Linked DNA regions of Homo sapiens: region 2 is linked to region 1. The links come from fine-mapping of genetic effects on gene expression. A gene starts in region 1. The other region holds a variant in brackets. All regions are shown on one strand. Distances are between the middles of the regions. Region 1 holds the start of CDHR3 (cadherin related family member 3). Region 2 holds the start of ATXN7L1 (ataxin 7 like 1).

Evidence for each region. PIP is the estimated chance that this variant, and not a neighbour inherited with it, causes the effect.
Region 2: its variant is fine-mapped to the expression of CDHR3 in whole blood (TOPMed, PIP 0.93).

The regions. Positions count from the first base shown.
Region 1 is chr7:105,955,845-105,972,022 of GRCh38, forward strand. It overlaps CDHR3 (cadherin related family member 3), which reads left to right and starts at 7,420. Exons shown (of 19, transcript NM_152750.5): 1 at 7,420-7,520. The coding sequence starts at 7,475. RefSeq lists enhancers at 1-372, 373-872, 5,973-6,924, 6,925-7,876 and a silencer at 7,459-7,753.
Region 2 is chr7:105,862,949-105,879,126 of GRCh38, forward strand. It overlaps ATXN7L1 (ataxin 7 like 1), which reads right to left and starts at 13,651. Exons shown (of 12, transcript NM_020725.2): 1 at 13,430-13,651; 2 at 12,864-12,932. The coding sequence starts at 13,610. RefSeq lists a silencer at 13,694-13,903. The variant T/C (reference allele first, on the strand shown) is at 8,889.

The DNA of each region.
Region 1 (16,178 bases):
GCCGTGGAGCAGGGGGTGGCGCTGGTCGGGGAGGCTCAGGCTGCGCAGGAGCCCACGGCGGCGGGGTAGGCTCAGGCATGGCAGGCTGCAGGTCCTGAGCCCTGCCCCGCAGGGAGGCAGCTAAGGCCCGGCGAGAAGTCGAGCACAGCAGCCGCTGGCCCAGGTGCTAAGCCGCTCACTGCCCGGAGCCGGCGGACTGCTCCGAGTGCGGGGCCCGCCGAGCCCACACCCACCTGGAACTAGCGCTGGCCCGCAAGCGCCACGCGCCGTCCCGGTTCCCGCCGGCGTCTCTCCCTCCACACTTCCCCTCAAGCTGAGGGAGCCGGCTCTGGCCTCAGCCAGCCCAGGAAGGGGCTCCCACAGTGCAGCGGCAGGCTGAAGCGCTCCTCAAGTGCCGCCAGAGTGGGCGTCCAGGCAGAGGAGGCGCCGAGAGCGAGCGAGCGAGGGATGCCAGCATGCTGTCACCTCTCAGTGCTGCCATGCGGTGAGCTTCAACCAGAGCCACAGCTGGCTGACTGGATGGATGGAAGGAGGGGTGCTTCTACAGAATCTGTTGCTTGTGGCCAGGCATTTTCTTCAGAGAACAAAACAGTTCTCTGCGATAACCTTAGCATGCACAACAGGGCTTGACACACAGTAGGTATTCAATATTTCTTGAGTGAATAAATAAATGCCACCTAAAGGGAGAAGGGGGAAGAAGGAATCAGCTGGCATGAAGATGTTTGAACAAAGTGGCAGAGAGGGTAAGTAGGAGGAGACCCATAGCTTGGGGTAGGGGGCTCCAGGAAGCCAATGAAGGATGCTGGAGAAGGAGCTGGCTTCAAAGCAGTTAGACAATTGCCCACAAGAATGACCTGGTAGAATCACCATATGACCTGGTAATTACACTTCTAGGTATTTCCCTAAGAGAAATAAAAACCTATGTCGTGCAAAAACTTGTACACAAATGTTCATAGCAGCATTATTTTAATAGCCAAAATGTTGAAATAACCCACATGTCCATCAACTGATTAATAAGAAAATTAAATTGTGGTCTATCCATACAACGGAATAATATTGGGTTGGTGCAAAAGTAATTAAAAGTAATGGCAAAAACCGCAATGACTTTTGCACCAACCCAATATTATTCAGCAATAAAAAGGAATGAAGTATTGAGCCATACAACAAAATACACGAACCCAAAGAACATTATGCAAGTAAAAGAAGCCAGTACAAAAGGCCACATATTGCTGGGTGCACTGGCTCCTGCCTCTAATCCCAGCACTTTGGGAGGCCAAGGCAGGCGGATCACCTGAGGTCAGGAGTTCGAGACCAGCCTGGCCAACATGGCAAAACCCTGCCTCTACTGATAATACAAAAATTAGCCTGGCATGGTCGCACGCGCCTGTAATCCCACCTATTTGGTAGGCTGAGGCAGGAAAATCACTTGAACCTGGGAGGCAGAGGTTGCAATGAGCTGAGATCACGCCACTGCACTCCAGCCTGGGTGATGGAGTGAGACTCCATCTCAAAAAAAAAAAAAAAATTTTAAAAAGGCCACATATTGTATGATTCTATTCATATGAAATGCCCAGAATAAGGAAATCTATAGAGATAGAAAGTAGATTAGTGGTTGCTAGGGTTGGGGGCGAGAGTTAGAGGAAAATTGAGAGTAACTGCTAAGGATTGAAGAGGTTTTTCTTTGGGGGGGATGAAAATGTTATAAAATTGATTATGGTGATGGTTGCACAACTCTATGAATATACTAAAAATCACTGAATTGTACACTTTAACTGGGTGCATTGTAAGGTATGTGAATTATATCACAAACTGTTTAAAGAAAAAAAAAAGAATTATCTGGGGACGTGAGCCCAGAGAGCAGGCAGCCTAGCCCACAGTCACAGCAGGTGCCCTGGAGTCAGGTGGGGCTGAGCCCCAAGGACGTCTTCTCAGTCACTCTTCCACCTGTGAAGCCAGGAAAAGGACCCTACCAGTGGGTCCTGAGAGCCTTGGCTTCAGAGGAGCCCCTCCCATGGTCCTCAAGGCCAGTCAGGGGATGCAGCTCCGGGGTTCTAGAAGTGAGAAGGGCTGTGGCACTTCTTTATTTCTATCCCTGCAAGAGCTGGCGGGGGCGGGGGGGGCTCTCACTGGGTCGATGTTTGGGGTGGGTGTGAGAGGAGAGCATGGCACGAGGCAAGGAAGTATAAAGTAAGATCAGTAATTCCATGTTTTTTGAGCACTTACTATGCATCTGGCACAGTGTTAAATGTGAAGCAATTGGAGTGCAAAGAAGCATAAGAGCTTCTCTGTCCTGGAAAACTTGCCAAGGCTGCATGGAGACAGATGTATAAAAGATCCATGAGATGTGGTGCTAAAGCAGTGCGTGTGCTAGGACAGTGGCCCACAAAGAAGACACGGGGAGGGATGTGTTTCTATTCTTGCAAGCAGCTTTGTGCATCTGCATGGCACCATTGCTGTGAGCATGGGTCTACCCTGAGTGCCTTTCCTGAGGGAGGCCTGAGATGGGGGAGGTGCTTGAATGATGGAACCTGGGTGTTCTGTTCTAGGTTTTGGATTCCTGGAAGCCCATAGTTCCAGTCCTGAACAAACGGACCATGAACAGAACTGCCCCGCAGATATAAAGGTGATGAGGCTTGCAGGCCAGCCCACCAATGCTCGTGGAGCTGCTAACAGAGCCCAGCCATTGCACAGTACTTCTGTGTCTCATCTTAAGGCTGTAATATTTAAAATACAGACAAGTACAGTTAGTTAATGATGGGGATACATTCTGAGAAATGCAATACTAGGCAATTTCATCATTGTGCGAACATCATAGAGTGCACTTACACAAACCTCGATGGTATAGCCTATTACACACCTGGGCTGTATGGTATAGTTTATTGCTCCTGGGCTACAAACCTGTACAGCATGTTACTGTACTGAATACTGTAGGCAATTGTAACTCGATGGTATGTATTTGTATATGTAAACATAGAAAAAGTACATTAAAAAATACTGCATAAGGCCGGGCACGATGGCTCACGTCTGTAATCCCAGCACTTTGGGAGGCCGAGGTGGGTGGATCACGAGGTCAGGAGTTTGAGACCAGCCTGGCCAACATAGTGAAATCCCCTCTCTACTAAAAATACAAAAAACTAGCTGGACATGGTGGCGGGTGCCTGTAATCCCAGCTACTTGGGAGGCTGAGGCAGGAGAATAGCTTGAACCCAGGAGGCGGAGGTTGCAGTGAGCTGAGATCGTGCCATTGCACTCCAGTCCAGGTGACAGTGCGAGACTCCGTCAAAAAAAAAAAACAACAACAAAAAACTGCATAAATGATTTTTTAAAATGGTACACCTCTATAGGACACTTAACATGAATGGAGCTTGCAGGACTGGAAGTTGCTGTAGGTGAGTGAGTGAGTGGTGAGTGAATGTAAGGCCTAGGACATTACTGTACACTACTGTAGAGTTTGTAAACTTAGTCCACTCCATTTATTTTTCAATTTTTCTTTCTTCAATAATAAATTAACCTTATCTTACTGTAACATTTTTACAAACTTTTATATTTTTAAAACTTTTGACTCTGTTGTAATAACAGCTTAAAATACATTGCACAGCTGTACAAAAATATTTTCTTTCTTTATAGCCTTAATCTATACTATTTTTCTATTTTTTTTTAACTTGCAAACCTTTTTTGTTAAAAATGAAGACACAAACACACACATTAGTCTAGACCTGCACAGGGTCAGGATCATCAATGTCATGTCTTCCACCTCCACATCTTGTCCCACTGGAAGGTCTTCAGGGGCAATAACACACATGGAGCTGCCATCTTCTATGATAACAATGCCTTCCTCTGGATACCTCCTAAGGGCCTGCCAGAGGCTGTTCTACAATTAGCTTTTTTTTTTTTTTTTTTTTTTTTTTTTGAGATGGAGTCTCACTCTGTCACCAAGGCTAGAGTGCAATGGCGCGATCTCGGCTCACTACAACCTCTGCCTCCCTAGTTCAAGAGATTCTCCTGCCTCAGCCTCCCAAGTAGCTGGGACTACAGGTGCTCACCACCATGCCCAGCTAACTTATATTTTTAGTAGAGACGGGGTTTCACCATGTTGGCCAGGTGGGTCTTGAACTCCTGATCTTGTGATCCACCCGCCTCAGCCTCCCAAAGTGCTGGGATTACAGGCGTGAGCCACGGTGCCTGTCCAGCTTTATTTTTTTAAATAAGTAGGAGTATACTCTAAAATGACAGCATACATTTATTATCATTATAAGTATTATGTACTGTACATAACCGTATGCGCTAGACTTTTGCATAACTATCAGTGCAGTAGGTTTGTTCCACCAGTATCTCCCCAGACACATGAGTAACATGTTGCACTATGATGTTACAACAGCTACAACGTCACTAGTTGATAGTAATGTTTCAGCTCCATTATCATCTATGGGACCACCATTGTGTACGAAGTCCATGGTTGATGGAAATGTTGTCATTATGCGGTGCATGACTATATGTTATAGATTATGTAAGGGTAATTGAGTTCCAAGTTCCAAGTCAAAAAATGTTTGGAACACAACTCCTTTGCTAGCAAATTAGACACTTACAGTAGCTAGTTCCCAGGGAAGTCCCCTGAAATACTTTAAGGGCCTGAATCACTGCTGAGCCAGACAGCATGTAGGAGAAGGCTCCTGGGTCTCATGTGAAGCTGGAGGGGTGCCTGCCCTAGAGATTCCGACCCTGCCTGAGGAACCCATTCATCCCATCTGGCTGAGACCTTGGTGGATCCAGGACAGCTCAGCATGCTGGCAGTCAGGGACAGGAGAGCCAAGGACCGCAAGGTCCCATTCAGCCTTGGTGCGATTCAGGCCCAGTTGGGTGTCTGGTGCTAGGACTAGGTGCTTTCGGAGGGAGATGGGAATTGACACATGGGCAGCAGCCCGCGGCAATGGCAGAAACAACCTCGGGGCTGGAAACAGAAGCTGTAATTACAGGAGAAAACACCCACAATGAATTCCAAAAGATGACCCTTTTGCTCCCTAGAACCAGGGAGGGAAAGGAAGGGGAGGCACGATCTCCTGGTAAAAACAGGGTAACATGAAAAATGCTGTGCAGTCAGGCTGAAAACTAAACAGATGTGAGTTTCTTTAATACAAAAGTTTAATCATTCTGACGTTTTCCATAACTTAATCTGAGCCATCGCTTCAGCTTGAATTATGCATAATGAAATGGATTATTTACAGTATCTCACATGACAGGAAAAACTGAGAGGTGAGAATTGGTAGCTTGGCAACTGTTGTTTATTTTTCTTTTTATTTGGCCAATATATATTGAGTACCTACTATGTTTCAGCCCTTGCCAGGGTCCTATTAGGAAAAAATAGTGTGGCACATGCCTGTAATATCAACACTTCGGGAGGCGGAGGTGGGAGAATCGCTTGAGCCCAGAAGTTTGAGACCAGTTTGGGCAACATAGGGAGACGTCCTCTCTAAAAAAAAAATTTTTTTAATTAGCCTGGTGTGGTGGTGCACGCCTGTGGTCCCAGCTGCTCCAGAGGCTGAGGTGGGCGGATTGCTTGAGTCCAGGAGATTGAGGCTGTAATGAGCTATGATCGCGCTGCTACACTCTAGCCTGGGAGACAGAGTGACAGTGAGATCCTGTCTCCAAAAAAAAAAAAAAAAAAAAAAAAAGTATTTTTAAAACACATAGTATGGGCCAGTTTCTTTCACTTCTTTCTCTTGTGTATCGCTTGCGATGATACTGTGTAGCAGGTATTATTTTCCCTGATTTACAGAAGTGAGTGGAACTGAGATTCTGAAAGGTTAGGTAAATTGCCAAAGGTGACACAGCAACACTCCCTTTTGTTTTGTTGTTGTTGTTACTATCTATGTGCTTCGAACAGAGACCTATCGACTAGCTTTCCTAATCTTACTACCTTTCCTTCATGCTTTACACAAGAAAAGTCAACTTTTCTTAAGGGAAAGGTTCTTGTTATTTTGAGCAGGAAAGTAAATGACCAAAATTGTACTTTGGGGAAATTAACCTAAGTTTCTGTAGGATGTGCTGCGGGCCAGAGCCCAGGCCAGAGGCAAGGACCTTAAGCCAGGGCAGTAGCAACAAGCATGGGAAGGGGCCCGGCAGCAGGCCCTGGAGGCTGGAAAGGGCTTGTCAAATGTTTGGATGTGGTGGAAGGGAAGGGCAGCCTTGCCACCCTAGGTTTGGGACGCAGGGGACACAGGGGACACTGGCAGGTGGCGCAGCCTGGGTCAAACCCCTCACTCTCTGAGCCCTTCTTGCTTGGCACCCTTGCAAATAAATGCCTTCCTTTCTATTGCTGCAAAAACCTCGGTGTGGATATCCGGTTTTACTGCACAGGGTGAGTGGACCCAGTTTGGTTCCATAACACTGTCTCCCTCTATCCCTCGTTGGTGACCTCCGTGTAGCAGGTGCTAAAAGCTGGTTCACCTGTGGGGCATGTGTAGTTTTCAGAGCGCCTGTGGGGTCTCGTCCAGACTGGGAGGCTCTGACTCAACTCCCCACCTTCTTCACTGCATTCCTGCCCCCAGCCTTGGGCTGCTGGCCTCTCCTCCCCTAGCTGGCAGAGGAATGGGAGAGGTGGTCCAAGCCCAGCTGCCTTCCACTGTGCCCACTACTTCTCTTACTGCACCATGTCAAGGGGACAGGCCACTGCTCGGCCGTTCTCTCTCTGCTCTGCTGTTGCTCCTTCTCAGTGGAGACTAGACCCCAGCCCGCGTTTGTTCACATGCCACATCTTGTGCCCTGGCACAGGGCTGTGTGGAACAGAAAGGCATCGTGAAGGGCAAGACCTGCATCACTCCCCAGTGGGCAGAAGCCTCACCACTCCAGTAACCTTCCTTCACAGCCTTCTTCGAGGGCTGGAGGGGCGGTGGTGGGGGGTGGAGTCAGAGGGCAGTCTTCCACCTCAAGTCAGCCTCGAGGAGGGGTCTGCTCCCAGCTCTCAGATCTTGTCTTTAGAACGAGTGCCAGTTAATTCCCAAGTCTGAATCCTACTCATTGATTCAGGACAGCAGAAAAACTCCCACTTCCCACCCCTGTTTCTGGAAATGACCACAAGCCTGGCTACAGGGCGACCGAGACCATCATGGGTGGACTACGCACGTCCAGCTCTTAGTGTGGTCTCCGTGTCTCGGTTTTCTCTTTTGACTTCTCTTTTGGAGCTCTTGGTTGAGACACTTGGTGAGTGTGGACTTTTAAGGTAAACTCTGAGCTGACCAGGACTGGCTGGTTGGTCTCTTGGGTGCTATGCAGTCACAGAAGCAGGTAATCAAAGAACAAACAGTCCTGTGGTGTTTGGAGTCTCCCTTGGCTACCGCCAAAGCCTCTGTTTGATTTCTTGCATGGCAACAAAACCAGGAGGGGAAGCTGAGTGGCTTCTGGAATAAACTTTGGGTGTGAGACGGGATTCAGGCTGTGGCTAATGTGCTGGAAGCACGCACAGTTGTGACCATCAAGTATGCAGGAAGCAATCATTCTCCTGGCTCTCCTGGGTGCCATGTCAGGTAGGAACTCAATTTTGCTTTGGAACCTTGCTTGCCTACTTGGTCTGCATAATACCATTGAATGACAATGTCCCCCAGAAAGGAAATTGCCCCTGGGAGGCTTGTTCAATTGAGGGCTTAGCTGCAGTAATGAATGAGGTGATGCCGCTCCAGGGAGCCCTGGGGGACCAGGTAGGAGCCCTGGAAAAGAGAGATGCTTAAAGAGCCTAATCTAATCTATGTTGGTGTAGACTTCACTTTCCCTCTTGGGTTAACTGGCCTGCATTTGGTAGTCCTCCTGAGATTTAAGGTTGGGAAAATAGTGTTCATAGCAGAGCTTTGTGAGTATGTCAAGTGAGTCTTTGTGGAGATTCTGGCCCTTTTCTGGAGGCTCGTAGGGCAACTTGAGGTTGACAAGTGATCCTTTGAGGAAAGTGAGTTACTGAGGGGGTGTCTTCCTCTTGAGCAAAGAAAACACCTTCTGATAGAAGGGTCAAAGACTCAAGCTAGTGATCATTTTACTCTCTCTTCCTCATTCAAGGGCATCAAGAATCTTAGATGATCTTTTTAATGTCAGCTTGGATTATTGAAATTGAGATTTTAAAATTAAATTTTATTTCTGAATAGGTAGTATATGCATAATATATTGAATTTATGTTAAATTTGCAAATTAATTTAGGGATAATTTACATCTTTGACAAGTTATGTAGTAAAATACTTAGAAGAGTGTCTGAGTACATAGTAAATGCTTAGTAAATGTTAGTGAGTATTATTTATGATCTTGAGTCTTCCTAATCCAAGAACAGGGTTCTAGATACTTGTTTGAGTCTTCATTTGTTTTTCTTAGGAGTATTTTGAGGTTTCCTTCATATAGATTTGGTACATTCTTATTATGGTTATTTCTAGTTCTTTTACTTTTTCTTTTTTTACATTTGTAAATGGAATCTCTTCTTCCCTACATCTTTCAACTGATTATTGTATGATGTATGGAAATCTGTTAACAAATTATCTTATTATTTGGCATGGTTTTTCAGGTGATTCTCATGAATTTTCCACGTTTGAAAAAATGAACATTTATATTCTTCTTCTCCTATGTCTATAGCTCCTATTTTTTTCTTATCTAACTGCCAGGCCTGGACATTCTGACCATTATTAAATAATGACAAGAGTGTAAATTCCTGTCTTGTTTCCCATTAAGCATGATGTTAACTTTTGGTGTGAGAGAGAAATGTTTTATATGTTAAGGAGGTGGCTTTTATTCTTATTAATATAAGAATATTACAGTATTTATTTCTAAATAAAAATATAATAAAACTAAATGTAAGAATATTCAAGTACTTATTTCTAAATAAAAATGGATTTTTAAATCAAACGCTTTTTCAAGATCTATGAAAATGACCATTTAATTTTCCTCTTCGATCTGCTAATAAGATAAATAAATAACTGGGTTTCCTAATATTGAGCCCTCTTCTATCTTGGGCTTTTCAACTCAGCAGAGGGCAGGATGACCTGTGAATGTGAAGTGGGCCATGAGCAGTTCAGACTGTCACTTGAAGTAAACATTTCAGATTTCCCCCAGAAATATGGGCTTTTAGGGCCACAATCATTTGAGTCGAGGTGACTTTTATTGTCACTGGGGAAAGAGTGAGGTTAGGAAGAACCCAATTTCTTATACTGAACACTATCATTTGGAATTTTATCAGAAGTGTGAAAGGGATAGATCACAAAGGTTTGCAAGAAATACTTGAGATTTCTTATTTAAAACACACAATAGAATCCCTTAGGTCAAATCTTGTTTTTGGAAGGGCTACTGTGACACAAACTGTTTCTTTTGTGAGTCTGAGAACCTGGTCATTACCCTCACACTCCAACACCTGGGCTACAGAGGCTTCTAGCGGGGCAGCCACATCAGCACCCCTTCAGGCTGTTGGAAGCAGGCATCACTATAATAATCTCAAATAAAGTAACATACAGTAAAAAATTAGCAGAGCATGAAGACGGGTGCCTATAATCCTAGCTACTCAGGAGGCTGAGGCAGGAGAATCGCTTGAACCCAGGAGGCGGAGGTTGCAGTGAGCTGAGATTGCGCCATTGCACTCCAGCCTGGGCGACAGAGTGAGACTCCATCTCAAAATAAGTAAATAAATAAAGTAACATAGAGTATCCTCTTTCCTTTCATGTGTTCTAACTCCTATGCTTCCTTCAAGGCCCAACTCAAGCCCCACCCCCCCCCATGGAGTCTTCCTGGATTGACCTAGCTCCTGGGGAGTGCTCCTGCTGTTGCACCCTGGAGCTCCTCTTGCCTGCACATGGACTGCCTGCAAAGAGTTCAGTCCAGCACCTAATGCAGATTCAGTGCTCAGCCAAAAGTAGCATGAGCTATCATACTGTAATTCATCTGTTATATGGCCATTTCTGCCTCCTCAACTAGAATGTCAGCCCTGCAATAACAGATTTCATATATCTTATTGCTCATTGTCCCTGTGTGCCACATATATAGAGGATATCCAATACATATTTGCTGTTTTTATTTTTATACTTTTTGAGTCTGGTATGGTTTTTTCCCCACATTTACTGATACACCCCAAATGTAGAGCTTTAGATCTTCTTCCTGCTTGATATTGACATTTAAATTCACTTCTGTCCTTTCCACCTCCTATGAAGATGAGTTTCCCTTTGTGAAGCTATAGTGCCTATTCCACCAACAGCTTACAAAGGGAGGCTCTACAAGAATATAAACTAGACAAAACTTTCAACTGCCCCAGTGGAAAGAGTTGAGACAAAGCAGTCATCTGGCTCCATCAGTCCCAAAGGATCACATGTGAGTCCCAGAAGATGAAGGACATAGAGAAGGACCCTTGGTATTTTTAAATCCACTGCACATGGAAGCTGTCTATGTTTTGAAGAAGCATCCAAGGAACCAGCTTTTGTATTACCCTCCTGGAAATGAAAAATGCCAGGGTATTTAATGAAAGAAGGGATCCTTGGGAGCCAGAAGATTCACATGGACATGAAAAGGTACCAAACCCATCCAACTGAGTTTGTCCGCAAGCTCTGGGCAAGAGGCAATCACAGCTTTCTTCAGCCCATCATCTGTGCGTGGTTCTCTGCTAGCCAGTGTTGGCAAATCAAACAAAGGCCCAAGACTGAGTTTCTTATTCTCCTTGGTAATTAAAATGTAAATGCTTCTTAATGCTCTCATCATATGAAAAGGCTGGAAGATGCAATCCATTTCTAGAAAGTCTTTCTGTCAGCCAATTAACCCTATGTATCAGGCCCAAAGAGTGTTGCAAGAGGTTTCTACTTTTTCCGTCATGTCACTTTCCTGTTCAGAGTCACCTCAGAAGAACAAAAGACAGTCCCTTCTCTCAGCTCTTCCTTGCCCATGGCAACCTCACCCCCAGTGCAAGCAGTCAGGCAGTCACTGGAATCCATCCACTTTCGCCTCCATGTAGTTGGAAGAGATTTGAAAGAAACAAGCCTTTCTCAGGCCCACCCCATAGTGATGCTCTAAGATAAACACGTCTGTTTCTTGCCAGTTATGACCTAGCTGGTGCAAAATTAATCTTGGTTTTTGCCATTGAAAGTAATGGTAAAAACCACAATTACTTTTTTTTTTTTATTATTATACTTTAAGTCCTAGGGTACAGGTGCACAATGTTCAGGTTTGTTACATATGTATACATGTGCCATGTTGGTGTGCTGCACTCATTAACTCATCATTTACATTAGGTATATCTCCTAATGCTATCCCTCCTCCTTCCCCTCACCCCATGACAGGCCCCAGTGTGTGATGTTCCCCTTCCTGTGTCCAAGTGTTCTCATTGTTCACTTCCCACTTATGAGTGAGAACGTGCAGTGTTTGGTTTTTTTGTCCTTGCGATAGTTTGCTAAGAATGATGGTTTCCAGCTTCATCCATGTCCCTGCAAAGGACATGAACTCATCCTTTTTTATGGCTGCATAGTATTCCATGGTGTATATGTGCCACATTTTCTTAATCCAGTCTATCATTGATGGACATTTGGGTTGGTTCCAAGTCTTTGCTATTGTGAATAGTGCCACAATAAACATACATGTGTATGTGTCTTTATAGCAGCATGATTTATAATCCTTTGGGTATAACCCAGTAATGGGATGGCTGGGTCCAATGGTATTTCTAGTTCTAGATCCTTGAGGAATCGCCACACTGACTTCCACAATGGTTGAACTAGTTTACAGTCCCACCAACAGCGTAAAAGCGTTCCTATTTCTCTGCATCCTCTCCAGCACCTGTTGTTTCCTGACTTTTTAATGATCACCATTCTAACTGGTGTAAGATGGTATCTCATTGTGGTTTTGATTTGCATTTCTCTGATGGCCAGTGATAATGAGCATTTTTTCATGTGTCTGTTGGCTGCATAAATGTCTTCTTTTGAGAAGTGTCTGTTCATATCCTTCACCCACTTTTTGATGGAGTTGTTTGATTTTTTCTTGTAAATTTGTTTTAGTTCTTTGTAGATTCTGGATATTAGCCCTTTGTCAGATGGGTAGATTGCAAAATTTTTCTCCTATTCTGTAGGTTGCCTGTTGACTCTGATGGTAGTTTCTTTTGCTGTGCAGAAGCTCTTTAGTTTAATTAGAACCGATTTGACAATTTTGCCTTATGTTGCCATTGCTTTTGGTGTTTTAGACATGAAGTCCTTGCCCATGCCTATGTCCTGAATGGTATTGCCTAGGTTTTCTTCTAGGGAAAAACCACAATTACTTTTACACCGACCTAATATAATGTACAGAATCACTAGTTGAATCACCTTTCCTTCTGTGTCCTATAAAGGGCTCTTTTCTGTTAATCTTGCTTGGCCTGGATTGTTCCTTGTTCCTCCCAAAAAAGGGGGTGGGTGAACATCTCATTCAGGAAGAGGTATATATTGTGGAAATTAAAGAAATAGGAAAAAGTTGCATATGTTGAAACAACATTTGACAATGCTTTATAGTTTACTGAGCATATGCATTTTCTTTTCTTTCTTTCTTTCTTTTTTTTATTTTTTATTTTTTTGAGATGGAGTCTTGCTTTGTTGCCCAGGCTGGAGTGCAGTGGCGTGATCTGGGCTCACTACAACCTCCACCTCCCAGTTCAAGTGATTCTCCTGCCTCAGCCTCCCAAGTAGCTGGGATTACAGGCAGCTGCCACCACACACTGCTAATTTTTGTATTTTTAATAGAGGTGGGGTTTCACCATGTCGGCCAGGCTAGTCTCAAACTCCGGACCTCAGGTGATCCACCTGGTTCGGCCTCCCAGAGTGCTGGGATTACAGGTTGAGCCACTGTGCCTGGCCGAGCATATGCATTTTCTTATGTGGCATCTGTGCTGTGAGAATAAGTTTCCATAGGCCTGATATTAGCCTGAATTTTTCTGCTGAAGTTCGTGAACCACACTGACCCCTAGTCAAGGCATGAAGCATGCTGATTAATAGTGTTGCTTTGGCTAGGTGCGGTGGCTCACGCCTGTAATCCCAGCACTTTGGGAGGCTGAGACGGGCAGATCATGAGGTCAGGAAATTGAGATCATCCTGGCTAACACGGTGAAACCCAGTCTCTACTAAAAATACAAAAAGTTAGCCAGGCGTGGTGGCGGGCACCTGTAGTCCCAGCTACTAGGGAGGCTGAGGCAGGAGAATGGCATGTACCCGGGAGGCGGAGCTTGCAGTGAGCAGAGATCGCGCCACTGCACTCCAGCCCGGGGGACAGAGCGAGACTCCGTCTCAAAATAAAAATAAAAATAAAAAAAGTGGGCCGGGCGTGGTGGCTCACGCCTGTAATCCCAGCACTTTGGGAGGCCGAGGCGGGCGGATCACGAGGTCAGGAGATCGAGACCATCCTGGCTAACACGGTGAAACCCCGTCTCTACTAAAAATACAAAAAAAAATTAGCCGGGCGAGGTGGCGGGCGCCTGTAGTCCCAGCTACTCGGGAGGCTGAGGCAGGAGAATGGCGTGAACCCCAGGGGGCGGAGCCTGCAGTGAGCCGAGATTGCGCCACTGCACTCCAGCCTGGGCGACAGCGAGACTCCGTCTCAAAAAAAAAAAAAAAAAAAAAAAGTGTTTCGTTGTAACCGTGGGTCCTAGGAGTTTCTGAATGGTTTGTAGCAGCTTGTAAGCGTTGTTTATTGATAACAGTGGGATTGATTATTTGCACCTGGTCTCAACGAGGACCTTCTGTGGGTTCTGCCGTTGAGGCCAGTTATAGAACAAGAATATGCCTACAGCAAAATAGAAAAAAATCCCAGTAAAGACTCCATAATTCCAAGATATTTGTGCATACATTGGCTGTTCCTGATCCAAGACAGTGCATTCTTCCGTCCCATAGAGAAAAGACAACAGTAAGAGCCTAGCCTGCACCTGGCCTCTGTGGATCTCCTGCTGAGGCAGCCTTCAGCTGTAGTGCATATCCTTACTTTCATGTTGTTGCTATGCTGTATCCGTTTTCTGTAATAAAACTGTAGATTTATAAGCATTGTCACTTGGGTCCCATGAGTCTTCTTTAGCAAAGGAACCCTGTTTAGTGGCTACTGTTAATGTAGCACCATAGCCCTGAGAGACAGAGTTGACAGGAACCCCCAGAGAAGTCAAGGGACCAGCCTAAGGTCACACAGTCAAGCAGTGGCAAAGCTAAGACTTGAAGCCAGGGGTCTGATTCCAAATCTCTCGTTCTTTTCACAGAACTGATTTTGTTCACTGCTGTTTGATTAGGTACTAGAGAGAATGAAGAGGTAGCTATTGAGTGATGGTCTCAGGGAGTCCTGCTCTGTGTATTGAAAGCAGAGCTCTAAGTTAGAGCAGCTACACCCCAAGAAGAAGATGGCATCACCCCACATTCTTGACCCGCATCTCCACTTTCAGTGTCAAAGGTCCAGGGTGGCCAACTTCCTCCTCTCTGAGACTGTGGAAGGCTTAATTATCCCAACATAGGCTCCCAGGGAAGCCCCATTGGTCCATTTCTGGAGAGGCAGTGATTCAAGGGAGACAAGTGAGCACATCCTGCATCCAGATCTTAGCCACAAGCAAGATGTTTCAGTGGGCGCCATGGCTGACAATAAATCTTTTGCATGCTCTTTCTTTTCCAAAGTACGTGCTTCAAGCAATTCTAATTTGATTCTTAATTAAGATGCATGTGTAAGTCAAATTCCATTAGAGCCTCCTTCTTGCTCTCTAGCACTCAGACCACCAAAGAAAGCCTGGAAGACCAGCCATGGAAGGAAAGTATGCGGTGTTTTAGGGAGAGCTGGCACCTGGCCTCTAATCTTCCCTCTGCCATTGACCAGATGGGTGCCTTTGGATACATCACTTAAGCTTACCTGTATAACAGATGGGTTTAACATTTTGTGAATATTGTATCTTATTCATTACTCTATTTTTAGGGTATGGACCCTAGTCACTTATTATCCTTGCTATTGCTATTATTACTACTACTACTTCTTTTACAAATAGCAATAGAGCTGGAGAAACCGGATTTTGAATTAAGGTCAGGAGAACCCAGCTTGGCTATCTTTTTAAAAAAATCAGTATCCCCAGCACTTTGGGAGGCCGAGGCAGGTGGATCACAAGGTCAGGAGATCAAGACCATCCTGGCTAACACGGTGAAACTCCGTCTCTACTAAAAATACAAAAAAATAGCCAGGCATGGTGGCAGGTGCCTGTGGTCCCAGCTGCTCAGGAGGCTGAGGCAGGAGAATGGCGTGAACCCGGGAGGCAGAGCTTGCAGTGAGCCAAGATCGCGCCACTGCATTCCAGCCTGGGAGACAGAGCGAGACTCCATTTCAAAAAAAAAAAAAAAAATCAGTATCCCTAGGACTGCCTAGGTCTGCCTCAAAGGACTGCCTAGGACTGCTAGGTCTGCCTAGGTCTGCCTCAAAGTTTTAAGGATTCATTTGCATGACCCTGGCACACACGGCCTTGCCCTGGGAAGAGAGGCCACCTGAAAAAATGTAGATCATTTCTAGCAAGAATATCGGCAGAAAGGGCATATCCAAGGACAGTCTGGCTTTCACCATACATGGGACAGGCGGTTCCCAATAAAAATTGCTTGAGAGTCACTGGCTATATCCACTTCTTCAAAAATATCTCTCACTGCCATTCAAAATATGACCATTCAAGGAGGACGATAAAAAACACTCTGATTTAAGGAGACATCATGGAGCTGTCCTTGGAGTCAGATGCCTAGGATTGGAATGCTGGATCTTTCATGGAATTAGTCTCTCAGACCCAGGAATTATCAAAGTTATGATCAATTCAAGAAAATCAGTGGATATACTTCTAGCAAAGCAAACCAGGAGCTATCAGCAGGCAATATTTGGGGAGCATGGCTTCTCTACAGTCCCCAGCTCCCCAAAGGAGCTGCACTAAGGTTGGGAGGCACAGTGATCTCTCCACTCGGGGTGAGGCTGTGGAGAGCCCTGAGTGGAGCTTAGCAAGTCCCTTCTACCTGAGCTCACACCACGCTCACACTCCAGCACAATTCTTCGTGTTGTTCCAGAAACAGCCTCTTACAAATCACATCATCAAGATCTAACATCCAGGTTAAAGGTCAATTTCTTACCAGCCCCCACAGCCATGTTGTTGCAGTGTCCCAGGGTGACTGAATAACTATGATGCATCCTATGTGCATGGTCATGTGACAGGCATGGAGTGACCGACTGTCTGT
Region 2 (16,178 bases), 93 kb before region 1:
CTGTGGCTGAAGAAGGTAAAGGACTTTCACACCCACTTAGCAGGCATATCACCATCAAAAGGACACCTCTAATGTGGCAGTATTGAAGAGTGATCTCCGCTCCATCATCCTAGAGAGCACACCCTTCATGAAATTACTAACAATCCCAATGCCATGAGGGAAACTGAACAGCGGCCTAGAAGATGTTCAAAAGGAGGAAAAAGAGAGAAATCATCACTCTAGATAGACGCCCCTGGAGTTGCTTGGCAACCATCTTTGCTAACACCTTCTCCCAAAAAGGAACACAGTTTGCATTAGCTCCTGTGATTTCCCTGAGGCCAGGACTCTGGCCACAGAGGCCCCAAAGCTGGGGCCTTGGAATGAGAGAGCGTTTCCCTGATGGGGAGACCCAGGGCCCTATCAGGAGGCCACTGGCTTACACAGTCAAGGGGGAATGAAAGGTAGTTCAGCCTTGCCATTTTGCTTAAAGAACAAGCTCTCTTGGCCAAGGATGGTGAGAGGATGAGTGAAGTCAGGTGCCCAGGTGCAACACTTAAGGGGCACTCACTCCGCACTTGCAGAAGCCCACGTGAGCCCCTCCTTAAACAGGTGTCCTGGGTGCCTGCTTGCTTCCCCTTAGTCCTAACCCTGCTCCTAGGATGACAGACATCAGGACACAGTGCTTAGAGCACAGTCTCTGGAATCAGCCTGCCTTGGGGTTCAGGGCAGCTCTACTATTCCCCAGCTATGTTACCTTGGGTAAATCACTTGACCTCTCTGAGCCTCAGCTTCCCAATCTCTGAAATAGGGTTGATAACAGGATTTGCCTCACAGGGTGGTCATGAGGATTAAATGCGAACATGCACATTTAGCCCTGTGCCTGGCACCTAGTTAATGCCCAATAAAAGACAGCTAGGATTGTTACTTAAAAACAAAACAAAACAAACAAAAAAACACATAAGTTGGGCTGTGTTTAGCCCAAAAGGTACCAGAAAAATAAATTTAAAACACAAACAAAAAACTCCAAAAGGAAATACATAAGCAGCTCCCTAGAACCCCTGAACCTGGATCTATAGAATCAGAATCTCTGTGGGTGGTCCTGGCATATTTGCTTTTAAAAAGCTTCCCAAGGAATTTTCAAGGTAGGCAGGGTTGAGAACCACTTCTCTCAACCAATAAACAGTAGTTCTCAAAGTTCAGGAAACAACAGAGCCACCTGAGGAGCCTGTTTAAAATGCACGTTCCTGGTCAGGTGTGGTGGCTCACACCTGTAATCCCAGAACTTTGAGAGGCCGAGGTGGGAGGATCACCTGGGCTCAGGAGTTTGAGACCAGCCTGGGGAATATAGCAAGACCTTGTCTCTACTAAAAGTCAAAAAAAATTAGGCAGGCATGGCAGCACACGCCTGTAGTCCTAGCTACCTAGGAGTCTGAGGTAGAAGGATCGCTTGAGCCCTGGAGATCGACGCTGCAGTGAGCTTGATCATGCCACTGCACTCCAGCCTGGGTGGCAGAGAGAGGCCCTGTCTCAAAAAAAAAAAAAAAAAAAAAAAAAAGGACATTCCTGGTTCCTGTGCTTCACTCCCGGTTGTTTCGTTTTAGTATGACCAGCCTGGGGCCGGGGGCACGAAGTACCCTACAGGACAACACAGCAGGGTCTCCAGAATGAACACACTTTGCAAAACATTGAAACAGATTCATTCGTTTTTTTTTTTTCTTTTTTTTGAGACGGAGTGTCACTCTGTCCCCCAGGCTGGAGTGCAGTGGTGCAATCTCGGCTCACTGCAACCTCCGCCTCCCGAATTCAAGCAATTCTTCTGCCTCAGCCTCCCAAGCAGCTAGGACTACAAGCACATGCCACCATACCTGGCTAATTTTTGTATTTTTTTTAGTAGAGATGGGGTTTCACCACATTGGCCAGGCTGGTCTCGAACTCCTGACCTCATGATCCACCCGCCTGGGCCTCCCAAAGTGCTGGGATTACAGGCATGAGCCACAGTGCCCAGCCCCAGATTCACTCTTGAAACTAACAGTACAGGGACACCAGTCCAATCCCTTTGTCTTTATTCGGGGCATCCTTAAAGAACTGGAGACATACAAGTTGACAAAAGATGCCTGGTGAGCCCCGGGCATCCCCCGGAGCAGTAAGAACGCAGTCTGTCCCCTGGAAGTGGCAGCTCTTAAGACAAAGGCGAAGACCCAAGTGCCCGGTAAAAACAACGATCATCACAACAAAGGCTTCCATTACTGAGTACCTACTTTATACCAGATAGCATCTCATTTATTTCCACAACAATTCTGATAGGTACTATTATTCCTACTCTGGAAAAGAAAAGTAGAAATTGAGGCTTAATTTAATACACAGCCAATAAATGGTCAAGATTTAAATAATGCTCCATTAAACTCCCAAGCCTGCAATGCCAATGAACCTTTTTGTGTGTGGTAAAATACACATAACATAAAATTTACCATTTTAACTTTTTTTTTTTTTTTGAGACAGAGTCTCGCTGTGTTGCCCAGGCTGGGGTGCAGTGGCGCGATCTCAGCTCACTGCAACCTCCGCCTCCCGGGTTCAAGTGATTCTCCTGCCTCAGCCTCCTGAGCAGCTGGGACTACAGGCACGTGCCACCATACCCAGCTAATTTTTTGTATTTTGAGTAGAGATGGGGTTTCACCGTGTTAGCCAGGATGGTATCGATCTCCTGACCTCGTGATCTGCCCACCTTGGCCTCCCAAAGTGCTGGGATTACAGGCGTGAGCCACTGCACCCGGGCCATTTTCACCATTTTTTATGTGTACGGTTAGTTCTGTGACATTAAGTATATTCACAATGTTGTACAACCATCACCACAGTCCATCTCCAGAACTTTTGCATCTTCCCCAACTGAAACTCTGTATCATGGCAACACTAACTCTCCGTTTCCCCTCCCCCAGCCCCTGAATACCCACCATTCTACTCGCTGTCTGTATGAATCTGACTACTCTAGGAACTTCATTATACATGGAATCACAGAGTATTTGTCCTTTTGTGACTCATATACTTTTTGAGAACTGGACTATCACCTTGGTCTGATATAACCAAACTGGGACCATGTCTCCAGCATCTTCCATACCCCTGGAATGCTGAACTCACCTGTGGTTAATATCATCGGACTGGGTGTCCTGTGTCCCCACCCCACCCCAGGACTCTGTGGCCTGTCAATGCCTTGAGGTAAGGTCACGTAACTCACACTCCCCCTACAGTTAAGGGTATCCTTACACCATTAATGTTCACAGATTTACAATTAGCATCACAGAATCAGGTACACCGGTAAGTGCTTCTGTGTTCAAAGAGCCTGTCATCGACTCACTTTTATCTTCCCCATTATGGTGACCTGGTGCCACTTCGTCCTGCCCTGGAGAGTATTTATTTGGTTTCCATTTCTTCTGTAAGCACTTGATCCCTTAAAATTGGCAAGCAGAATTGTGTTGAGAAACCACAGGTACAAGGATAAAGTGTCTCCATAAAAACATTGCTTTCCCCACAGCAGAATTCCAGCTTCACTTATAGACGACTAGGGCAGCCAGGTCTAGCCCCTGAATATTAAGGATGCTCCGCTGTAGCCTCAGCCCACTTGCAAGAAGGGATTTCCTGAGGTTTCATCATTAGTTCAAGCGCCTCAGGGTCCAAATCCAGGTCCATTTGGCAGTCTGAGCTCTACCACAGGAGAGAGTAAGAGAATGCCAGCCAAACGGCATCAGCTGGGAGCACGTAATCAGCAGAACACTGGACCGGGAGATTTAGGAGACAGTCACACACAGAAGTCAGTCCTTGCCATTCCTACAATATTCTGAAAAAGTAGAACCCACTGGCTAAAGCTCTCCCTCTCCATTACGGCTATGTTTGATTATTGCAATCACTCAGTGACCACTGTCTCCAGATGTGAATAGTGGGCCACCTCAGTGTGTGGGGTCCTTAGAGAAGAGGGATTTGACCAGGACAAGGTCTCACTGCATTGAGTACTACCATCTTATGCCTACTTCTGAAATATGTCATGAATGAAACAAAATGTCATAAACGAAACGTTAACCTGAAGGATATAAATGCAACCAACCCGGAAAACCATACAGAAACAAATCTGCCTAACTTTTCTAAATCAATTCTGCAGCAGAGACGGCAGGCCCCTGGGAACCGCCGGCTGAAAGCATCAACATGGCCTCACAGTCTTAACTGATGCTGCAGACCACCTGGCACACAGGTCAGAAGGCCTCAGGAATCAGACCCTCCCCTGCCCTTTGTACCTTCCCAGGCTTAACATGGAAATCATGAAAGCAGCCACTTTGCTTTCCGTCATGTGCATCCCCATTTCAGACATATCCCGTGGGTAATCAAACTGCAGAGAACGCCAGTTGTATTTTCAGCCTGACTTTAAATATAAACTGAAATCCTTACTGCTTCACCAATGCGATGTGGTACTTTTGACATCGGGGGCCACTGTATAATAAATGCCATCATTACCAGAATTGATGCTTTGGGTCTCCTCCACCCACAGTGAAGGAGGGTTGGGCCACCCAGAATTAGAACCTGCAACTCACTATTGTCACCAGTGACTGCAGACTGGACTCCAAGGTTTGGAAGAGTCATCTTGGGAACTTTGGGAGGAGGGTTCCCTGGGGGACCGAGGCTTCTCTCTCTTTAGATCCTCCCAAATGTAGCTCAGCGCCAGGGGATAGTCACAGTACAGGTATATCTGCTGAGTAATCGACAAGGCTGACTTACATGGGCTGAAGGCCTAACACATGGACAGATATTGGCAGAATATTTCTGTATCTTAGTCTATTTTTCTTGTGTTCTTACCTCTCCAGCCTCACCAGCCAGTGATTCTCTATCAGAGCGATTTGTCCCCCTGGGACATTTGGCAATGTACGGAGATATTTTTGGTTGTCTAAACTTGGGGGAGGGGAGGGAGACACTGCTGGCATCTAGCAAGTGGAGGCGCAAGATGCGGCTCAGCATCCTGCCATACACAGGACAGCGCCCCCAAAAAGAAGCATCTGGCTCAAACCATCAGTGGTGCCACTGGTGAGAAATATTATACTACTGTGTGCTTTGCTATCTTTACTCCAGCAAGAGGACTTTTTAGGTTCAGAACAGTCTATATTCTCTGGCACTTGGGCCTTTATCCCTGTCGTTTCCTCTAACTCTGTCCTGCCCAGCTCTACACATGGGTAACTTCCTGTATCCTCCAGGTTTTAGCTTACATAAAATTTCCTCTGGGAGGCCGGCACTGAGCCCCTACCTCAGTGAGGCCCCCCCACCATGACCTCCAGCAGCACCTGAGTTTCCCTATCAGAGCACTCATCGCGGTCTACCTGTACTTTCGCCACCAGGCTGGAAGCACCCTGAGGGCAGGCAGGGGTTGTGGTTTTTCACTGCTGTGTCCCTGGTGTCTAGCCCAGTTCTGGCACGTCAGGAGAGCTCCCTCCAGGTCAAACACATAAGGGAGGCTGAGAAACAGTTGAGCGTATTAAAAACTTGGCAAGACACCCAGAGGCTTAAATTGTTACCCTACTATGCAGGCACCAAAAGAGAACATGGCGACTTCTCATGAACTGACATGGACAGCTCTCTAAGATAAATGGAAATGGCAAGATATCAGCTAATACTATAGGTTTCTATCATTCACGTGAGAACAAGAAGACAAAATTATATATGTATCTACTTGAATGCACACAGAATATCTTTGGAAGAATACACAAGCAACTGGGGATGGGGTGGGAGGGAGACTTACTTTCCACTTGGATAGCCTTTTGAATTTTGTAACATGAACATTATTAAAAAAAATAAGTAGTTTTAAAATGAATGTGTATGTGTGTGTAATGGTCTACATCTTCTAGCAGTAAAAACATTATTCTCATAGAATGATACAGGATGAGACCCTGGTACAGGGCAACTTAGAAGGCAAATTATCATATACAGTGTTTCCGTGTGTCCATTCTAGCTTCCTGTTGTGGAAGTAGACAGAGCCACATTTCTTCCACACGGGAACCCAGGCACAAGGAAATAATTGTATGTATAAAGAAATACTCATTTTGGAAGCTTTGTATTTTCCAAACTAGATGATCAGGATGTCCTTTCTCATCTGTGTTGTGTTGGTTGTGGCATGCCCCTGCTCCATCAGTGGGCTGCACCTGTAGAGCTTATAGGTCTCCAAGCCCTTCCCTTCTCCGTCTCATCTTTCCTCCCTACCACCTTTAAGCCGCTCCATCTCTCCCATCCTTCCATCCCAAAAGCTGGGCCAGATAAGAGAGATGATAATGTAACGCCAAAGTGAACAAATGTTACTGCTTGTTAGCAAAAGGGGAGGAAGGTAGGCTTAATGGGGAATGAAGTTGAAATTAATGGTAAAAATGAGGTTTATCTGTGTAATCTGTGGACTTTGTGTCTTCCCATCTCCTATTAACATAGATAACAGAGTTGTCTATAATGATAAAGGGAAGCTGTTCGCAGTTTCCCATAAATCTCCATGGCCTGCTGCTGGCTTCTCTGGCTTGGATTCTAAGAAAACTTCATTCTTAACCAGGTCAGTTGCCACCTTCTCCAATTTGCTCCCATCCAGCCACAACTGCAAGACTCCTAAGCCTGAGCTGAACATGCTCCTATGTTCTCTGCACCCTCCTATATTCCAGCCCAATTCCACCAGCATCTCAGAAGAACAGCAAACTCTTATAGTCACAGCAATATCTTACTGGCCCCAGCACAATTTTCAAATTGGAAACTTTCCACCAGTTTATCTACATCACATCAAAACATGTGGGAACGTTAAAACACAGGCAAGTTTTCAAAGTGACAAGTGTAGGCTTCCAAGAGACCCAAACAGGAATCTATTCAGGACTTTTTTTTTTCTCAGTGATAAAATAAAACAACTTATCGATCATTGAAAAAAGTTTTTTAGATCTCCCAGTCCCTAGAAAGAACTTTGTATAAACTCTTCTTAGCCATAGGCCATATACAGCCTAAGTATTATTCGACAGCTATTGATAAAACTTATCAATGATCACTTAACTGCACTCTATTAAAAACATTGATATCTGGCCGGGTGCGGTGGCTCATGCCTGTAATCCCAGCACTTTGGGAGGCCGAGGCGGGCGGATCACAAAGTTAGGAGATCGAGACCATACTGGTTAACACGGTGAAACCCAGCCTCTACTAAAAATACAAAAAAATTAGCCAGGTGTGGTGGTGGGTACCTGTAGTCCCAGCTACTCGGGAGCCTGAGGCAGGAGAATCACTTCAACCTGGGAGGTGGAGGTCGCAGTGAGCTGAGATCGCACCACTGCACTCCAGCCTGGGTGACAGAGGGAGACTCCATTTCAAAAAAAAAAAAAAAAAATTTGATATCCATAGAAATTGTTTCTTTAAAAAATCATTAGTGTCATAAAATTACAACAAAATGGTTTACTCTAAAAATAAAGTTTCTGCTACGTATCTTTTCTTTTCATCACAGATTAGTTTAAAATCCTAATTAGAATAAAGTTTTCTAGAGCTAGCTTCATTAATAATGATAATAATAGTAAAAGCCAACATTCATTAAGCACTTACTATGTGCTAAGCCCTTTTGTATTATCTCATTTAATCATCACAACAACCTTATTCTTTTCTGTCTTATAGTTAGGGACACTTATGAGGCACAGGAACCCTATTCCTTATCTATGAATTGGTATTCTTTAAAAAAAAATTCAGGTGAGGCAAGGGGAACATCTTTCTAAATCACTGAGAGCTTTTCCCTAATTAGCTTGAAAAAGCTGAGGAGGAAATTATTTGAAAAGGTTAGCACAGAAGAATGGCCGTCCTTGGAATTTTCTCTCATAAACACCTTTCACAGATTAGGCTAATAAGGTTTCTGGGAGTCCTCCTCTCAGGAAATCTGAATGCCTGACTGATCCAAGCTGACTGGGGTCAAATCATTCCTCACTAGGGGAACACATTGGGTTTTGGACTCAGAACCCCACTTTTCTCGGAATGCTGAAGGCCAAATACCATTCACAAATGATTTGCAGCAGAATATTGCTTGTGTATGAGATGCAGTGATTTTTGCCACCAAGAAGTTATAAATTGAGAAAATAAACCCAGTTATTTTTGAAGTAGTTTAAGATATTTTTAATGTGAGGGCTTGGGTTTTTTTTTTTTTTTTTTTAAGTTTCTTTAGAAACAGTTTGCCTGCTATAACTGCATCTCAAAGGAAGGTACATTCAATAGAGAAGCTTGGGTTCAGAGGTCTCAAAGGGACCTTAGAGGACATTCAGTTCCACCCCCCTTTCTTTAAATATGGGCAAATAGGCCAAGAGAAGTGAAACGACTTCCAAAGGGCATAGATCAAAATGTAGGAAGCTGACTCAAAGTGCTATCCTGCTCCTTCCAGTACCCAGGTTGTCCTGGATATAAGCCCATCTAAGCATATCCACCCATGGATCTAGCAACGCCTTCTGAACCCAGGTGATGACAACATTCAAAAGTATTTGGGGCCAGGTGCAGTGGCTCATGCCTGTAATCCCAGCACTTTGGGATGCTGAGGCAGGCAGATCACCTGAGGTCTGGAGTTCGAGACCAGCCTGGCTAACATGGTGAAACCCATCTCTACTAAATATACAAAATTAGCCGGGCGTGGTGGCGCATGCCTGGACTCCCAGCTACTTGGGAGGCTGAGAAAGGAGAATCGCTTGAACCCACGAGGTGGAGGTTGCAGTGAGCCAAGATCATGCCATTGCACTCCAGCCTGGGCAACAAGAGCGAGATTCTGTCTCAAAAAAAAAAAAAAAATTGGCAAATTCCTCTTAGCTATAATTTAGCTAATTTTAGATGAAATAATAACAATGACATGAAAACTTTATTACAGACATTTCAAAGCATCCAGTTAACATTTCATACTT[T/C]ATAGGTGGAGAACTGAAAGAAATGGAAAGAATTGAAAGAAAGTTTAAAGGGGTGAGGAATGGGGAACTGTATTACAGTAATCAAGTTATTCAAAAAGTCTGCAAGTCCTTGCTGTGTCTTCTGAAGTTGTGGCCAGATAGAGGTAGAAACCAAAATAATTTTTTTTTTTTTTTGAGCTGGAGTCTCGCTCTTTCGCCCAGGCTGGAGTGCAGTGGTGCGATCTTGGCTCACTGCAAGCTCCGCCTCCCGGGTTCACGCCATTCTCCTGCCTCAGCCTCCCAAGTAGCTGGGACTACAGGTGCGTGCCACCACGCCCGGCTAATTTTTTGTATTTTTAGTAGAGATGGGGTTTCACCATGTTAGCCAGGATGGTCTCGATCTCCTGACCTCCTGATCCACCCACCCCAGCCTCCCAAAGTGTTGGGATTACAGGCGTGAGCCACCATGCCTGGCCAAACCAAAATAATTCTTATTTCACATTTCCAGCCTAACTTCTCTTCCTGAGTTTAGTCTATTAAAAATATATGACACCAATGTTCATAGTGGCATTACTCAAAATGGCCAAAATATGGAAACAACCCAAATGTCCACCAACAGATAAGTGGATAACAAAACGTAGTATATATACACAATGAAATATTATTCAGCCTTAAAAAGGAATGAAGTACTGATCCATGCTACAACATGGATGAGCTATGAAGAGATGCGAAGTGAAATAAACCAGATACAAAAGGATACAGATTGTATGACTCCACTTATATGAGGTATCAGAATAGGCAACTTCATAGAGACAGAAAGTAGAACAGTGGTTACCAGGGCTGAGAGGAATGGGGAATGGGGAGTGATTGCATAATGGGTACAGAGTTTCTGACTGGGATGATGGAAAATTTGGGAAATGGAAAGTGATGATAGTTGTGTAATATTATGAAAGTACTTAGTGCCACTGAATTGTATACTCAAAATGGTTAAAATGATAAATTTTATGCTATGTATATTTTACCACAAAAAAAAAAAAACATCAAAATCGGAACCACCCGCCGGGCACGGTGGCTCATGCCTGTAATCCCAGCACTTTGGGAGGCCGAGGCGGGTGGATCACGAGGTCAGGAGATCGAGACCATCCTGGCTAACACGGTGAAACCCCATCTCTACTAAAAATTCAAAAAATCAGCCGGGCTTGGTGGCGGGCGCCTGTAATCCCAGCTACTTGGGAGGTTGAGGCAGGAGAAGGGTGTGAACCCGGGAGGCGGAGCTTGCAGTGAGCTGAGATTGCGCCACTGCACTCCAGCCTGGGCGGCAGAGCAAGACTCCGTCTCAAAAAAACAAAACAAAACAAAACAAAACAAAACAACAACAACAACAAAAATCGGAACCACTTCCCTTCAATTCCCAGTTGGAATTTCTAAACTGTATTTTGTTCATTCATTCCCATTAAAGCCGAATTTCTTCTCAAGACCTGCTTAAAGCCAACAGTGTCATGGACAATCTACATACATTCATAAGCACAGGTACACAGCCACACACAGGCTACTTTGTGTCCTGCAGTGACCCATCCACAAACATGTATCCGTCCCAGGACTTTGTTGATCACTCCAAAAAGAGGGCCCATGGCAAGCATTACTGGAGATCCAGGTAACCAAATAAACACCCTGTCTCAGCTCAACCCTTCAATTTCTCACCATGGGGGAATACGTATTCAGTATATAGATATTTTATCTATAAAGAAAACTGCATGCATATATACCAGAAAGACCATCAGGAATTGCTCACCCAAGTCTGTTCCACCAGGCCTGTGAACAAAGAGATTTCAGCCCATATATGGCTATTTTGGTGAAGTTAGCAATTTCAAGTTACACTGAACAGTGGGTGTCCTTAATGCAAATATGTATAATTAGGAGCTAAATCTTCGTACCTTTATAGGACAAAGGACCTAATAAGCGGGATGTACCACCTGTGACTTCTGAGGAAAGGAGAGCTTTTCATTTTTTCTTAAAAGAATCCGTTTCTCAGCCAGGCACGGTGGCTCATGCCTGTAATTCCAGCACTTCGGGAGGCCAAGTGGGCAGATCACGAGGTCAAGAGATCAAGACCATCCTGGCCAACATGGTGAAACCCCGTCTCTACTAAAAATACAAAAATTAACTGGGTGTGGTGGCACGTGCCTGTAGTTCCAGCTATGCAGGAGGCTGAGGCAGGAGAATCGCTTGAACCCGGGAGGCGGAGGTTGCAGTGAGCCAAGATCGTACCACTGTACTCCAGCCTGGCGACAGAGTGAGAATCCGTATCAAAAAAAAAAAAAAAAAAAAAATCTGTTTCTCATGAGGCAAAGAGAATCTGAGAACAACAGTCTTCTGAAATAGAAACAGGGACTGGGGGGAAAGGATGTGAGTTTTGTGTGTGATAGTCATAACGCATCACCCAGACCTGAGAGGTGACAATCCTGTGCTATACCATGACCTTTACTCAACTTTAATTTAAAGATTTCCACAGCCTCATCATCTTTTATGGACACGTTGCCAGTAGCCTGATAACTGGGTCTTGCAAGCACTTAGAGATCTCAAGAGTTTGTGTGTGAAGAAAAATAATCTCTAGTGATGCTTCCCACTGCCAACACACATGAACATTTAACACAAATAAGCTGCCACTTGTAAGAAGTCCACTTGACATCAATCCCTCGTGCATCCTGAAGACACCTGTCAAGATCACACTAAGATATTTAGAAGCAAACATCTTTAGAATAATGTTTTGTTCCCAAAGTGCTTAATTAGCAGAAACATTATGCTAGGGAACTGTCCTTGAATATGTACGCATTTTAACCTTCATGTTATTTTTTCTGAAGCACAAAATTTCCTCTCAGTGGATGGTCAGGAAATGATTGGGCACAGAAAACCAACCATCTGAAGTGTTGATTCATAAAATGAGTTCCATCTTTCCACGCAGGCTTCAGCTGCCTTCCAGGGTGACATCCCTTTTTATGAGGGGGACCATTCTTTGGCATCTAATGGCCTTTTCTCCATTCATTTGGGATGACCAATGCACCTATGGCCTACTTATGTCTGAACTCTTTCAATACCACCAACCTCTTCTGTCCCCTTGTGCCATCTTCCCACCCCCAATTTCAGCCAATTATGTTTATAAGACATCAGTTAGTGAATCACAATTCAAATGAATCCACCTATTTGCTTAGCAGCAAGTGGCCCCCGGAGTTGCTCCATTTGAAGCCCATAGGCCAGAGTTACATACGGCAGGCTTGCAAATGAGAACAGGATATGATTTATTTATGACGACCATATGTGTTTGATGCCCAATTGCAGCAGGTTGTGGCTTCTCTTGCATATCTTGGTCTGGGATGACCTATCTACTCAGTGTGTCCCATTTCAGGTACCGTATTTCCATGCTGGGAAAAGAGAGATGATGACTGCTGAGGGGCTGCACATACAGATGCTCCTAACCCTGCTTGCCACATAACAATCTGTGACCAAATGCAAAGTGGGCCAAATGTAACTTGCTGCAAAGGTTTGCCATGTACAATGGTTTTCAGTGGTGAGTGGAGAAGTAGCTGCTGGAATGACTGACCATGTGGGGTTCATTAAGCTGTTGTGCATTCACCCACGAGAAAGGCTGGGATGCTTGTGAAGGGAACTCCACTCTTCATTTCAGAAATTTTAACGCCCCACCATTTGGCAATGATGCTCCCAAGGAGAATGGCAGATATGCATCAGAAGGTTCAAACGTGGAGTCCAACTGAAGTGCAGTAAACTTCTGCCTTCAACAGTCTCACCCCCCTTTACCCCCCCCCCAGTTGTATTTATACTTTGAAAGAAGTTAACATGAAGCAGTAGTCACCTGGGCGTGCTCAATTTTTGACAAGCCTTAGTCACTCTGTACCCAGCAGAACAATTCACATTATATTCGAAATCCTGTGAAGATTCTGCCACACATGCTAACACTAAAATGCCAGTAGCTCCACTTACCTTCTTTATTAAGCCTCATAACCTCCCTGCTTTTTCCACCCTCTTTTCCAGCCTCTTCTAAATCTACATCTGCAGATGAAAAAGAAAAGGAAAACAGAAAATAAGGAAAAAAGGGGGGAAAAAAGCCAAAGTCAAGGGGGGAGGGAGAGTGTTTATTTGCAAACAGATCGATATAAATACTGTATATGAAATTCTTTCAAAAATTGACAATGCAACATTTTCTCCCAAGTCTGGGTTTCCATCTACCTGGCCCAGATAGGTACCCAAAAAACTATGCAAGCAGCAACAAAGTAGCCTTTTAAACGGACAACACCGTGGGGCTGCGAGCCCACCCCGCGGGCTGCCACGGGGAGCCGGGCACAGACAGACAGACAGCCCTGGCAGCCGGGCCTCTCCCTGTGCATTGATGATCTGTCTCTGTGTGTATTTATTTAGAGAGAGAGGGAGAAGCATGGAGGACACCGGGGGCCACTCTCTCTCTCACACACACACTTTTTCCCAGTGGCTCTAGGTGAATGGAAAGGTTACAGGATAATAAAAGGAGGAGGAGGTGGTGGGGTTCTTACTGTCGGAGCAGTGTAATTTGGCGGCGTCGATCCAGGAGGACCAGGGTTTGCCCAGAAACGCCTCCGGACTGGGCACTTTGCGATCCAGTGTCGCCATTGCTCTTCCTTCTTGTTGCTTTTTCCCTGTTCCTTCGGCAGCAGCAGCCGAGAGACACGGGATTCGAGAACGCTCCGACGTCATCTTCGGAACGTTCCGACATTGAGTGTTCTGAAAGGGGGAGGGAGGGAGGAAGGGCGGGATGGGAGGAGGGCGGCGGAGGAGGAGGGGAGAGGGAGCGGAGGAGGGGCGGGCGCTCGGGCTCCCGGAGCCGGCTCGGTGGGGCTCGCGCGCCCGCGGCCGCCAGGGGCAGCAGAGAGGCACCTGCAGTCCGCGCCCGCCCGCCCGCCGGGGCCGCCCGCCTGCCGGGGAGGGGCAGCGCGGACGGGCGAGCGCCGCGTGCGGGAGAGCGAAGGCTGCAGCGCGCCCGGCAGCCGGGATGCAGCGGCGCCGCCCAAGCCTGGGGCGCAGGGGTCGGGGCACACGGGGATAGGCCCGACGCGGGGCCGAAGGAAGGGTGGTCTTTCCCGCAGAGTTGCCGCTGGAGGACCGAAAGTTTTGCAGGCAGCCCTTGCTTCCAGCTTGTCGCTCTCTCCCCGCGTCCCTGTCGCCCAACGCGAGGCGCCCCCGCTGGGGTCCCGACGGCTTGGTGGGGAGGAGCCGTGAGGGGTTGCGCCCCCCACCCCCACCCGAGCCAGGGAAGGGACCCTGGTGACCTCGCCTCCCAGCCCTCACCCCCGTCACCCCTTTCTTCTCTTTCCTGGAGGACTTTGGACCATGGAGATTCTGCAGTTGTTGCTCTAGGAGCTGAAACCAGTGGGTAGATGTCGTTCTGAAACGCAGGTGAGTTTGGAGCGCTACGAGCTACCTTCCCATCTCAGGCTGCGGGGCGTGCAAAACTCAAAAGTTAGGGCCCCCGGACCCCCGGGTTCCCCGCGCGGTGCGTATCTCCGGCTCTCAGAGAACCACTGCATGGACTTTGCTCCAGGGTCAGCAGAGCGGGAGGGCGAATTTACGGCTCTTGGAAGACGACGCTAACGGGCCTAGCCCCTGAGCCGTTTCCAGCGCTCCCTGCCGTGAGACGAGGGTGGCCCGGGTTTGCGCAGGCAACCTTTGGCCAGGAATCTGATTCCTGGGAGAATTCACTTCAGGCTTAACTGCTCTAGCCAGCTAGAAAGGGAGCGCTAGATTTCCTCTGGATTTTGGACGTTGGGTGCTTTAGTTGAGATTTTCACCCTTTAAAGAAGGCTTTAAAAAGTCTTCTGTTACTTCTTTTTAACAAATCCTTTTGTTTACTAGAATTATCTAAACTATATGGACACCGCCCTCACCCCACAAGCGACATATTTTTTTTTCTCTTTCGCCAGCACCCTTTTAGCTCTCACCACTGCTGTTTCCCAAGTTGTCACAGCTGAAGCGCACTGATTGGAAGTTGCTTTGTACTGACTGAGTTCTGCCCTGGCTGAACCATCTAATAATTTCCCTGAGCTTGGCACCCTGTATCGCTAAGCCAGTGTTAGGATGGGCGATGAAGGAGGAGCTGCGGATTTGCCTTTAGTTGTGATGTTTGTGTGAGTCGGCTTGTTTGTGTCAGACTCAGATAAACTGCATTTGCCTTTGCTCTCTTTCGAAGGGCTCCTACATAGCTAAGGTGTCGCTGGGTGAAGAATTCCCATTGTAAGAATTGGTGGTGTTAACAAATATGTATTACTTGTTGACCTCTTGTTATATGCTAGACCCTGGGCTTGACATTTCCTTCCTTCCTTCCTTCCTTCCATCTGTCCATCTTAAGTCAACCAATATTGCCTGTCATGGAACAGCTGTGCCCTCCTGTCAGGAGGGAAAGATGAGTGAGACCCATCCTCACCCTCACAGAGATGCAGTCTGGTGGTCTCTGGAAGAAGGAAGTTGTGAAACTTACCGATTCCTTGGGAAAACAGGCAGGTACACAGGGACTGGCCTGTGCAGTGGGTGGGGTGGTCTCTCAGCTGTGCCAGTTCATAGAGGAACCGAAATCTAGTTAGGAGTGAACAGAAACTGCGTAACAGAAGATGGGCTCTGCTCTGCATCTTGGAAATTGCCAAAGATTTGTAATGGTAAGGTGAAGACTGGTCTTGCGGAGGGAGGGGGAATAATGGTATTAGCAGAGGCTTCAAGCTGAGTATAAACATGGTGTGTTTGGGTGTTGAGCATGGTTTGCCTGGGATGGAGAATTGTTACTGGGGGCTTGGGGGTGATGCATTTTGATACCCAGGCCTGGATCAAATTATGGAAGGCACCAAACGGCAGCCTAAAGAGTCTGGATTTTGTTTGACAATGGGGAGCTACTGAAGGGCTTTCTGTACCATAAAGATAAGTTAAAAGTGTGAGTTAGAAAGATTGGAGTACGGAGCCTGGTTAGAAAAGTAGTGCTGCAATATTCATGGTGTGAAGAGATGAAAGCCTGAACTTTGGTGGTGCTATGCAGGTAGAGAAGAGGAGACAGGTGTGAGACTGTGAAGAGAGCACCTGATCAGAGGGTGTGCTGTTGGGCTAGATTTAGAGGTGGGGAGAGAGAATGCGAGAGCTCTGAGGCATGAGTAATTAGATGCTGGAACACTTTCCCTTTCCCTTCTGCTTCCCTATTTTCCCTCTATTTATTATCTATTTTGATGTTTATTCCTGTGTTGTTGTGCATGCAAGGAAGGTGTAGGCAGCAGCTAATGTGGCCCC